3 separate regions of the Homo sapiens genome follow, and all the other regions are linked to region 2. The links come from fine-mapping of genetic effects on gene expression. A gene starts in region 2. Each other region holds a variant in brackets. All regions are shown on one strand. Distances are between the middles of the regions.

Region 1 (4,237 bases), 79 kb before region 2:
TGAAACCACATGGTAGTACTCGGTTACAAGGGAGTCCTCTAATGATCCAGATGTACTGGGTTTTTCTTTTCTTTTTTCTTTTTTTAGTTTTTTATTTCCATAGATTTTGGGGGAACAGGTGGTACTCGGTTATATGAGTAAGTTCTTTAGTGGTGATTTGTAAGATTTTAGTGTACCCATCACCCAAGCAGTATACATTGAACCCAATTTGTAGTCTTTTATCCCTCATCCCCTCCCACCCTTTCCCCCCAAGTCCCCAAAGTCCATTGTATCATTCTTATGCCTTTAATCCTCATAGCTTAGCTCTCACTTACAAAGTGAGAACATACGATGTTTGATTTTCCATTCCTGAGTTACTTCACTTAGAAGAATAATAGTCTCCAGTTCAATCCAGGTTGCTGTGAATGCCATTATTTCGTTCCTTTTTATGGCTGAGTAGTATTCCATCATATATATATTTCTTTATCCACTCCTTGATTGATGGTGGGCATTTGGGCTGGTTCCGTATTTTTGGAATTGCAAATTATGCTGCTCTAAACATGCATGTGCAAGTATCTTTTTCTTATAATGACTTCTTTTCCTCTGGGTAGATACCCAGGAGTGAGATTGCTGGATCAAATGGTAGTTCCACTTTTTGTTCTTTAAGGAATGTCCACACTGTTTTCTATAGTGGCTGTACTAGTTTACATTCCCACCAGCAGTGTAGAAAGGTTTCTTGTTCACCGCATCCATGCCAACATCTGTTATTTTTTTATTTTTTGATTACGGCCATTCTTGCAGGAGTAAGGTGGTATCCCATTGTGGTTCTGATTTGCATTTCCCTGATCGTTAGTGATGTTGAGCATTTAAATGAAAACACAAAATGATAAAATTCTTGGAAAGAGTATTTGGGTCCTTGGGAATGTCTGCCGGGTTGCAGGAGACCATAAACTCTGCCTCGTAAGGGCTAGCAGAGAGTTTTGTACCTAGAAGGTGCTAAAACTCTTGTTGAATTGAATGTATTTGTTGACAGAATAAAAGGAAGCTCAGTATCGGTAGAGAGGGTTTTGCTTTACTGTCTGGAGAAGGATGTAAATATCAAGGCATGGCCTTTGGACTTTTGGCTTGCCTGTCTGAGGTTGTAACCTGACCAGTTTGTTCTGTGGACTATGGGAGTATATTGGAAAGCAGGTGATTTGGCCTTGGGGAGTCCAGAGACATTCTTCCCCCTGACCCAGCACCTTATGTGTTTTGTAGTTTAATTGGAGCAGTGCAGTATACAGTTCAGTTTATAGGGAATCAGTACTGTGTAATGGGCAAGACCATTAGCGCTAATGTCAGAGTATCTGGGTTTAAGATCTGGCTGTTGGGTTTTGACTTTGGACAAATTAGTCTCTCTTATTTGTAAAAGGGAAGTAATACTACAATCTAGGTTTTTGTGAGAAGTAAGTTAATGCATATAAAGCACTTGGTATGATACCCGATGTGGAGAAAGTGCTTAATAAATACGATTTTTAGGCCAGGCGCGGGGGCTTATGCCTGTAATCCCAGCACTTTGGGAGGCCGAGGCGGGTGGATCACCTGAGGTCAGGAGTTTGAGACCAGCCTGACCAGCGTGGTGAAACCCTATCTCTACTAAAAGTACAAAAATTTGCCAGGCGTGGTGGTGAGTGCCTGTAATCCCAGGTACTGGGAGGCTGAGACAAGAGAATTGCTTGAACCCAGGAGGCAGAGGTTGCAGTGAGCCGAGATTGCACCACTGCACTCTAGCCTAGGGGACACAGCAAGACTTCGTCTCAAAAAATATATATGTGATTTTTATTCACTTGTTTTTATTATTGGGAGATGCAGGGGGAGATGGGTTTTTCCCCTCATAGAGTGGTGAAAACAGTTTATAGCAGCACTGTAGCAGACACTGTGGAACTGGTGAAATTTGAATTTGGCTTACAGATCCACACTCCTCTCCCTGATTTTTTGGAAACCCAAAAAGCTCTGAGAATCCTGAGGCATCTCGAATATCATCTGGTGGCCAAACCTGACCCTACATGTTGCTTTTCACAGCCTTTATTTCACGTACGCTGAGTGGTCATAGGCAATGATGCAGAAATAATTATTTGGTTACCAGGTACTGCCTTGAACCCCACTGGAAGTTACTTAAAATACGGGGTATGCATTGATTTACACTTCTAAAACCCCCTCAAATTCTGAAACTCAGTTGGGTCTCAGAGTTGTATATGGGATTACGTACCTGTATGTGACTTTAAATTTGTGCTGCCTCAATAGGCTGCATACACGCAGACAGGCAGGTAGACATATAACATGCAATGCAGACATTGCAGGTGCAGAGGTTCTATTACATATCAACATGAAAAGTTCTTAGAAAGTAGAAACTGGTGGCCTAGAAATCTAGTCCCAAACTCCCGTTATTCAAGTATGCACTAGATTTGTTATTCAGTGAGTCATGAAGCATTTCTTTAACATCTAGGTGTGAGCAGAATTATTCACAATAGCCCCCAAATGGAAGTAACCCAAATGTTCATCAACAGGAGAGTGGTTAAACAAAATGTGGTCTCTCCAGACAGGGGAACATTATTTAGCCCTGGAAAGAAATGGA[G/A]CAGTGACACGTGCTGCAATGGGGGTGAACCTTGAAAACACTGTGCTTAGTGAAAGAAGCCAGACACAGAAGGCCACAGGTCATCTGATTCCATTTGTGTGAGACAGATGGCCATCTGAAGGGGCTATGCTTTTTTGTTTTCATGACTCATAATTTTTTGCTGAAAAACTCGATCTCTCATTTTTCTCAAGCTTCCATGATTCGAAAACTGGACATTTTATCTGTTTGGTTTTTTTTGTTTTGTTTTTTGTTTTTAGTTTTTTTTGAAATGGAGTCTCAGTCTGTCACCCAGGCTGGAGTGCAGTGGCACAATCTCAACTCACTGCAGACTCCATCTCCCGGGTTCAAGCGATTCTCCTGCCTCAGCTTCCTGAGTAGCTGGCATTACAGGCACACACCACCACGCCCAGCTAATTTTTGTATTTTTAGTAGAGATGGCGTTTCACCATGTTGGCCAGGCTGGTCTTGAACTCCTGACCTCAAGTGATCCGCCCTCCCGGACCTCCCAAAGTGCAGGGGTTACAGGCATGAGCCAGCGCGCCTGGCCTGTTTTTGTTTTTTTTGGGGAGACAGTCTCTGTCGCCCAGGCTGGAGTGCAGTGGCACGATCTTGGCTCACTGCAGCCTCCACCTCCCGAGTTCAAGCGATTCTCCTGCCTCAGCCTCCCGTGTAGCTGGGATTGCAGGTGCCTGCCACCACAGCCAGCTAATTTTTATATTTTTAGTAGGGACGGGGGTTCGCCATGTTGGCCAGGCCAGTCTTGAACTCCTGACCTCAGGTGATCCACCCGCCTCGGCCTCCCAAAATGCTGGGATTACAGGCGTGAGCCACTGCACCCAGCCTGTAAACTGGATATTTTGCATATTGCAGTCTGGTAACTCTGGGAATGGGATTCTTCCTTTCTTCCCTGTCCTCAGGCTTGGTTGTTTCTGCTTATTGTGGGTTGTAACTGTTTGTTTAGTGGCTTTTCTAAGCTATTTTTGTAAAGATTGTGTTCTTTGTGGGGTGTGGTCAGTAGTCTGTTCTGTTAGTTTAGTGGTCAGCTAGTGACTTAACAGAGATCTTCTTAAACTCCTGGAGCTAAAAAAAAAACAAAACAGAAAACAAAAAACAAAAAGCTCCCAGTAGTTGCAGCGGGGCACTGCTTCCACACTCAGGCAGGCGGTTAACAACCCTACCTTCGCCTTCACTCTCTGCCTGCACAGAGCGAAGGTCAGCCAGAGGTGAGAGCTTGGAAGCCTTCTCTGGTCCTTTCCAAACATGTGCCCACCCTGAGATGCCACCTTCTAAATTCCCAGGAATATGTGGAAGCTCTTTTTTTATTCATTTGGATTTTTTAATTTTTTTAATACTTAATTAATTAATTATTTTGAGACAGGGTATCACTTTGTTGCCCAGGCTGGAGTGCAGTGGCGCAATCATAGCTCAATGAAGCCTCCAATTCTTGGGCTCAAGCGATTCACCCTCCTCAGCCTCCCAAGTAGCTGAAACCACAAGCATGTGCCACCATGCCCAGCTAATTAAAAAAAAATTTTTTTTCATAGAGACAGGGTCTGACTTTGTCAAACTCCTGGGCCAAAGTGCTGGGATTACAGGTGTGAGCCACCACACCCAGCCAGAGCTCAGTCTCTGTGTTGTATAGTT
Region 2 (4,216 bases):
AAATTGTGGTTTGACTGAGGTTTCCTACCCTTTGGGGGTTTTTGGGTTTGTTTTTTTTTTGAGACAGAGTCTCGCTCTATCGCCCAGGCTGGAGTGCAGTGGTGCGATCTTGGTTCACTGCAACCTCTGCCTCCCGGGTTCAAGCGATTCTCCTGCCTCAGTCTCCCGAGTAGCTGGGATTACAAGCGTGCGCCACCACGCCCAGCTAATTTTTGTATTTTTAGCAGAGACAGCGTTTCACCATGTTGGCCAGGCTGGTCTCAAACTCCTGACCTCAGTTGATCCGCCTGCCTCAGCTTCCAAAGTTCTGGAATTACAGGCATGAGCCACCAGGCCCGGCCTGTTTTGGTTTGTTTTGTTAAAACTTCATAGGCAGTTCAAGTGTGCAGCTAGGATTGGAAACCTCTTAACAGGATGATTCCTTCCTAACCTGTAACTTCATTTTTTCATTCATCCGCTCAACATGTGGCTTATAGGTTACTAGGGCGGGAAGACGCCTGAAGGAAACGCACTGCTGAAGTGGCACTAGACCCACGTGCCACTCCCTCAGCGAATATTCACTAAGCACCTGCTGCATGCCAGGCCCTGGGAATACAGCAGCACTGACGGCATTCCCAGACTGCCCTCCAGGAACTTCTACTCTCCACATCCAGAAATCTGGAATCATCACAAATTCCTTGCCACCTCCGTTATCCAGTCTGCCTTTGAGAACTTTCCATCATGTAAGAGCTGTCTCTTACATGCTCAGCACATAGTTTGTGATTTTTGACACATATTTTCTGAATGCCTGCTTTGTGTCAGGCCTTGTGTTCCAGGTACAGGCGATAAGGCCGTGATCAAGGGAGATCAGCCTGCTGCCTTCATGGAGCTTGCAGTCTGTGTGTGCTCGAGGTGTCCAGGACAGCTGGCCAACCCATGTCTTCTGGAAATGATACACAGATGTGCACATAGTACCCAAACCTCCATGGCCTTCTAGGGACAAAGCAGCACAGACAGGAACCCCTGAAGGCCCCAGAGTCGGAAACACCTGGTTTACATCCTGTCCCCACCACTTGCTAGCATATCAGTCAGTGGACTTACTCTTTCTGAGCCTCCATTTGATTCTCTCTAAACTGGGATAATAAACCTCTTTGTAGAGGTTTCTTTCTTGCAAAGATTAGTGAGACAGATTTGCAAAGGACGTCCGGGCACATAGTAAAAGCTCAATGAATCCTGAATAAGTGAACCGGCAGGGAGGGTAACAGTAGGCCCTTGCAGAACAGTTGTAAGGAATCAGATTATCAGAGCCAGCATGACTGTCACCAAGTAGGTGTTCGATAAAGGAGGTGGTTATTATAGCTGGATCATTTTTCCTTGGGGGCAAGAAGAATGTATTAATTATTTTAAAGGTGATACTGTTAAGATTATGAACTATAGGCCGGGCAAGGGGGCTCACGCCTATAATCCTAGCACTTTGGGAGGCCGAGGTGGGCGGATCACCTGAGGTCAGGAGGTCCAGACCAGCCTGGGCAACATGGCGAAACCCCATCTCTACTAAAAATAGAAAAACTAGCCAGGTGTGGTGGCGCCTGTAATCCCAGCTGCTGGGAGGCTGAGGCAGGAGAATCGCTTGAACCCAGGAGGCAGAGGTTGCAGTGAGCCGAGATCGCACCACTGCACTCCAGGGTGACAGAGCAAGACTCCGTCTCAAAAAAAAAAAAAAAAAAAATAGTGAACTGTGGAGTTACCTTGTTTGGTTTCCAGTACTGACCGCTCGTTACTAGCTGTGTGATCTTAGGCAAGTTACTTTACCCCTCTGTGCCTCAATTCCTTCATCTCTAAAATGGATTTAAGTACCTACCTCCACCCCCTTGCGAATTTTTAATAAAGTATTAGATGGAATGCACTTACAGTAGTTCCTGGCACATAAGGGCAATATTAAGTTTTATGATGATGATGATTCGACCTTCCACACAGCATACAGCGAGAGGCCGTGGCCACCACCTCCCATCTCTAGTCACAGACTCCTTATGGCAGCCCCTTGGTCCAGAAATGGAAAGGAGAAGAGAGCGCGGGCGCAGTGGGGCAAAGTCGCCTGGGAGGCCCGAGCAGGCGACCTGGCCGCCATCTTGGGAGAGGGCAACGCCGGCAGCTTCCGTACGTCATCAGCCCGCGCAACGGCCGGGCACCCGGCGGTTCAGGTCGCTTAGAGAGTCGTAGGTTGGGTAGTGCGGGTTGGGGCGGGGGCTGCGGAGAGGGTGCTTAACTGAGGGGCATGATGGGGGAGGCGGCCGTGGCCGCGGGGCCTTGTCCGTTGCGCGAGGACAGCTTCACGCGCTTCTCGTCGCAGAGCAATGTGTACGGGCTGGCAGGCGGCGCCGGCGGGCGCGGGGAGCTGCTGGCCGCCACCCTTAAAGGCAAGGTGCTCGGCTTCCGCTACCAAGACCTCCGACAGAAAATCCGGCCAGTGGCCAAGGAGCTGCAGTTCAACTACATTCCCGGTGGGTGGCGCTATGGTGCTGGGGGGCGGGGGCCTGGAACGTGGTGTTGAGAAGGCTTCTGAGGCTCTGTCTGAGCCGGGTCACCGTGCTGGAAGAATGGGATCAGGTGGTTTTAAGGGGGTCACTGGGATCAGCGGGCAGGCATAGTTGGGGCCCGGATGAGCCTAGGGTTTCAGGATTCTTCAGACTTACAGGTCAGGATCCCTAGTACCCAGGGAACAGAGATCAGGTGATGGTGGTCAGGACTCAGACCAGAGGGCATGATCATTGCGGTAGCCAGAGCTCACCATGTTGGGGAGATTGGAAGCATGAGTCTGCCTGACACTGAACTTAGAACTCTCCCCTCCCAGTGGATGCGGAGATTGTCTCCATCGACACTTTCAACAAGTCACCCCCCAAGCGGGGTCTGGTTGTGGGGATCACGTTCATCAAGGTACCTAGAGCCCCCTCCACCTCCCTTCGCCCTCCTCCTTACACACATGGTGAGTTCCACTGAGCCGCCCCGGATCCCTCCTGCCACCCCTGCCCTCCCCTGAACCCCGTGTCCTCCGCCAGGATTCAGGGGACAAGGGCAGCCCCTTCCTGAACATTTACTGCGACTACGAGCCCGGCTCTGAGTACAACCTTGACTCTATTGCCCGTGAGTGAGGCGTGGACGGGAGGAGGGAGAGAGTCCCCAGCAGGTCCCCCATGCTAACCTGCCTGTGCCCTGCCTACAGAGAGCTGCCTGAACCTGGAGCTCCAGTTCACTCCGTTCCAGCTGTGCCATGCGGAGTGAGTGTCCCCTGCGCATCGACGCCCACTCCACTGTAAATGTAGAAACCCTGGCTTCTCGAACCCCTTCTTTACTTACAGACCCCTGTAGTCTGTTTCCCCTTCTGGAAAATAAAGAGGTTGTACTAGATTAGGGATTGAAAACTAAAATGCCAGCCGGGCACGGTGGCTCACACCTGTAATCCCAGCACTTTGAGAGGCTGAGGCAGACGGATCACCTGAGGTCAGGAGTTTGAGACCAGCCTGGCCAACATGGCGAAACCCCGTCTCTACTAAAAATACAAAAATTAGCTGGGCATGGTGGTGTGTGCCTGTAATCCCAGCCTACTCAGGAGGCTGAGGCAGGAGAATCACTTGAACCCGGGAGGCGGAGGTTGCAGTGAGCCAAGATTGCACCACAGCACTCCAACCTGGGTGACAAGAGCGAAACTCTGTCTCAAAAATAAATAAATAAAATAAAATGAAATTAAACTAAAATGCCTTTGGGGACCAGAGAGGTCATGTGAGAATGGAAAGCACAAATGTAATATAACAGGGAGCACATGTGCACACACACATATGCAGCTGAGGTTGGAAAGCTGTAGCTAACTGGAGACCACGAACTTGTCCATAGACAATCAGATTCTACATTTGTTTTTTAAAGCATTGCACTTTTTTTTTCTTTCTTTTTTTTTTTTTTTGAGATAGATGCTCGCTCTGTTGCCAGGCTGGAGTGCAGTGGCTCGATCTCTGCAACCTCTACCTCCCTGGTTCAAGTGATTCTACTGCCTCAGCCTCCTGAGTAGCTAGGATTACAGGCTCACACCACCATGCCCGGCTAATTTTTGTATTTTTAGTATAGATAGGTTTTTGCCATGTTGGCCAGGCTAGTCTCGAACTCCTGACCTCAGGTGATCCGCCCGCCTTGGCCTCCCAAAGTGCTGGGATTACAGGCGTGAGCCACCACGCCTGGCCGGAGCATC
Region 3 (4,237 bases), 97 kb before region 2:
AGTGCTGGGATTACAGGTGTGAGCCACTGCAGCCAGCCAAAGAGAGGAATTTTTACATCACTTTTAAATAAGCCCATTTTCAAATATATATAAAAATAAAAGAGTATGATTAACTCCACATGCCGGTCACTGGGCCTCACCAATTATCAACTCATGGCCAATGCTGTTTCATTTCTACCGTCTCTCATTGGCCCCACCCTCACCCCACTAGATAGTTTTAAAACACATCCCAGACATCACATCATTTCATGTACAGATTATTCATTTCATATCTCTGGAGATAAGGTTTGTTTATAGAAATATAACCACAATCCCGTGATCCATCTAAAAAATGCACCATAATTCTTTCCTATCATCGAATAGGCAGTCAGAGTTCAGATTTCTCTACTTGTCTGATAATTTAAAAACAAAACGAAACAAAACATTGGTCTGTTCGACTCAGCATCCAAAGTCCTTGGGTTGCATGTGGTTGATTTGTGGCTACAGTCTCTCTTATCTCTCGGTTCCCTCAAGGGAGGAATTCTTTTTAAAAAATGAATGGAAGAGGCAGGAGCATTTGAGGATAGTGATGGGCATGATTTGGCAGAAGGAGAGAGAGATGATGAATGATATAGGAGACAGGAAGAGAAAGAGGAGAAGAGGAGGAAATGAAGAGGAGGGAGGAGAAAGAGGGGGGAGGGCAGGAGGAAGAGGAGGAGGAGAGGAAGAGGAGGGAAGGAGGAGGGGAGGAGGAGGGGGAAGGAAGAGGAGGAGGAGGGGGAAAGGAAGAGGAGGAGGACAAGGGGAGGATGAAGAGGAGGGGAGGAGGAGGACAGGCAGAGGAAGAGGAGGAGGAGGGGAGGAGGAAAAGGAGGAGGAAGAGGAGGAGGGGGGAGGAGGAGGAGAGGAGGAGAAACTTCAATGGAAGAGGAAAGAGGGAGAGAAGGAGGGAGGTGGAAGGGAAGAAGGAAGGAAGGAAGGCAGGGAGGGAGGGAGAGAAGGAAGGAAGGAAGGGCGGGAGGCAGGGAAGGAAGGAAGGAAGGAAGGAAAGAAGGAAGGAAGGAAGGAGGGAGGGAGACCCCAATCCTTGAGAGAGGGAATCACAGGGACAGATGACAAGGGGGTTCCCTTCTGATGGCTTCTATGTGCACAGGGAAGTGTGGGACCTAGTCATGGGCTGGAGGGCAGGGGGGAAATGTAAGCACACCAGAGACACATAGAGAGTGCCCTGCGCCTGTCTGAGGCCTGTGATTTCTCTGATTCAGGTAAAACCCGTTGGGCTGGCTGGGTGGTTTCCTTCTGCTGGGCTCGGCTGGCACAGAGAAGAGGATGGCTGGAGTTTGGCCAGGTGAGTCCTTTAGAGGCCGAGAGGAGTGAGGAGTGTGAGAATGCTTGAAGGACGTGATTCAAAAGACAAATCACAGAAAGCAATGCTGAACAAAGTGAATAGATGGAGACAACAGGAAAAGGTTGGCAGAGAAGAGGAACCTGCGGCCAGGGTGTACCCCTCTCCTTCTGAAGAGCATCTTTTCCCTTAGCTTCTCAGGGGCTTCCATTTTATTTTGTTTTGTTTTGTTTATGAGAGATAAGGTCACATTTTGTAGACCAGGCTGGAGTCCAGTGGTACAATCATAGTTCACTGCAACCTCGGACTCCTGGGCTCATGCGATCCTCCCACCTCAGCCTCCTGAGTAGCTGGGACTATAGGCACATGCCACCACATCTGGCTAGTTTTTTCTTTTTTTAAGAGATAGGGTCTTGCTATGTTGCCCAGGATGGAGTGCAGTGGCTATGCACAGGCATGATCCCACCAGTGATTAACACAGGAGTTTTGACCTGCTCCATTTCCAACATGGGCCAGTTCACCCCTCCTTAGGCAACCTGGTGATCCCCCGCTCTCAGGAGGCCACCAAACTGATGCCAAACTTAGCGTGGACCCTGCATTGGCATAGTGTACTACAGCCCAGAACTCCTGGTCCCAAGTGATCCTCCTGCCTCAGCCTCCCGAGTATCTGGGACCACAGGTGTGTGCCACCATGCCTGGCTCCCTTACTTTAAAAAAAATAATAATTCTATCTATGTCCCTAAACTGCTTATTGTTTAGCTTTGCCTGTGTTTTGAAATGATATTTATTTTTGAGACAGAGTCTCACTGTGTTGCCCAGGCTGGAGTGCAGCGGTGGGATCATGGCTCACTGCAACCTCGACCTCCAGGGCTCAAGTGTTCCTCTCACCTCTGCCTCCTGAGAAGCTGGAACTACAGGCAGATCACGCCACCATGCCCAGTTTATTTTTAATTTTTCTTGCCATGTGGTCCAGGCTGGTCTTGAACTCCTGGCCTCAAGTGATGCCTCC[T/C]GGCTCGGCCTCCCAAAGTGCTGGGATTACAGACACGATTCACCACACCCTGTTGAAATGTTATATGTAAATGGGAGCACATCTGTGTTGCTGTGTGTAATGGAAATTGACTCATTTTCACTGCTGCATAATACTCCATTGAATAACTATACCACGATTTATCCAGTCTCCTATAGGTGGACATTTTCATTTCCTTTCCTTCTTTTTTCACCCTAAACTTTTTATTTTGGAGTAATTTTAAATTTACTGGAAACTTGGAAAGATGGTACAAAGAGTTACCACATCCCCCTCACCCTTTCCCTGATGTTGGCATCTTACTTTATCACAGGACAGTCATGTGCCACATAACAACGTTTTGGCCAATAAGAACTACACATATGACAGAGGTCCTGTAAGATTATAATACTGTATTTTTACTGTACCTTTTCTTTTTTCTTTTCTTTTCTTTTCTTTTTTGTTTGAGATGGACTCTCGCTCTATCGCCTAGGCTGGAGTACAGTGGCGAGGTCTCGGCTCACTGCAGCCTCCGCCTCCCAGGTTCAAGTGATTCTCCTGCCTCAGCCTCCCAAGTAGCTGGGATTACAGGTGCCTGCCACCACACCTGGCTAATTTTTGTATTTTAAGTAGAGATGGGGTTTTACCATGTTGTCCAGGCTGGTGTCGAACTCCTGACCTCAGGTGATCCACCTGCCTCGGCCTCCAAAGTGCTGGGATTACAGGCATGAGCCACCACGCCTGGTCTACTGTACCTTTCTATGTTTTGATGCACAAATACTTACCTTTGTGTTTCAGCTGCCTACAGTATTCAGTACAGTTGCATGCTGCATGTTTGTAGCCTAGGAACAATAGGCTACACCATACAGCCTAGCTGTGTGCTAGGCTATACCATCTGGGTTTGTACAGCTTACGACGTTCACGCAACAAGGAAAAAATCACCTGAAGATACATCTCTCAGACAGATCTCCGTTGTTAAGTGACACAACTATACATTTGTCAAAACTACAAAAACATTGGCCAGGCTCGGTGGCTCATGCCTAAAATCCTCATACTTTGGAAGGCCGAGGCAGGCGGCTCACCTGAGGCCAGGAGTTTGAGACCAGCCTGGCTAACACAGTGAAACCCCGTCACTACCAAAAAATAAAAAATGTATAAGCCAGGCATGGTGGTGCACTTCTGTAGTCCCAGCTACTCAGGAGGGTGAGGCAGGAGAATGGCTTGAACCTGGGAGGCGGAGATTGCAGTGAGCCCAGATGGCACCACTGCACTGCAGCCTGGGCGACAGAATGAGACCCTGTCTCAAAAAAAAAAAAAAAAAAAACACACACACACAAAACAGGCGGGGTGCAATGGTTCATGCCTGTAATTTCAGCACTTTGGGAGGCTGAGGCGGGCGGATCACCTGAGGTCAGGATGAGTTCTAGACCACCCTGGCCAACATGGTGAAACTCCGTCTCTACTAAAAGTATAAAAATTAGTTGGGTGTGGTGACGGGCGCCTGTAATCCCAGCTACTCTGGAGGCTGAGGCAGAACCTGGGAGGCGGTGGTTGCAGTGAGTCAAGATCATGCTATTGCACTGCAGCCTGGGAGACAGAGCCAGACTCCATCTCAAAAAAAAAAAAGGCTGGGCGTGGTGGCTCACGCCTGTAATCCCAGCATTTGGGAGGCCGAGGCCGGCAGATCACGAGGTCAGGAGATCGAGACCATCTTGACTAACACGGTGAAACCCCATCTACTAAAAATACAAAAATTAGCTGGGCGTGGTGTCGGGCGCCTGTAGTCCCAGCTACTCGGGAGGCTGAGGCAGGAGAATGGCGTGAACCCGGGAGGCGGAGCTTACAGCAAGCTGAGATTGCGCCACTGCACTCCAGCCTGGGCGACAGAGCGAGACTCTGTCTCAAAAAAA

What was found. PIP is the estimated chance that this variant, and not a neighbour inherited with it, causes the effect. A credible set is the group of variants that fine-mapping cannot tell apart.
Region 1: its variant is the best candidate, but not a certain one, in a credible set for the expression of KPTN in aorta (GTEx, PIP 0.88).
Region 3: its variant is the best candidate, but not a certain one, in a credible set for the expression of KPTN in sun-exposed skin (GTEx, PIP 0.59).

The regions. Positions count from the first base shown.
Region 1 is chr19:47,561,165-47,565,401 of GRCh38, reverse strand. All of the region lies in intron 2 of ZNF541 (zinc finger protein 541), which reads left to right. Among named protein-coding and RNA genes, the nearest start is that of ZNF541, 9.9 kb to the left of the region's middle. The variant G/A (reference allele first, on the strand shown) is at 2,594.
Region 2 is chr19:47,482,199-47,486,414 of GRCh38, reverse strand. KPTN (kaptin, actin binding protein) reads left to right here and starts at 2,196. Exons shown (of 12, transcript NM_007059.4): 1 at 2,196-2,480; 2 at 2,831-2,913; 3 at 3,036-3,120; 4 at 3,200-3,254. The coding sequence starts at 2,255. NAPA-AS1 (NAPA antisense RNA 1) reads right to left here and starts at 2,133. Exons shown (of 4, transcript NR_038452.1): 1 at 1,891-2,133. It also overlaps a transcript of NAPA not described here. RefSeq lists enhancers at 1,822-1,951, 1,982-2,271.
Region 3 is chr19:47,578,810-47,583,046 of GRCh38, reverse strand. It overlaps the pseudogene RN7SL322P. Among named protein-coding and RNA genes, the nearest start is that of ZNF541, 7.8 kb to the right of the region's middle. The variant T/C (reference allele first, on the strand shown) is at 2,334.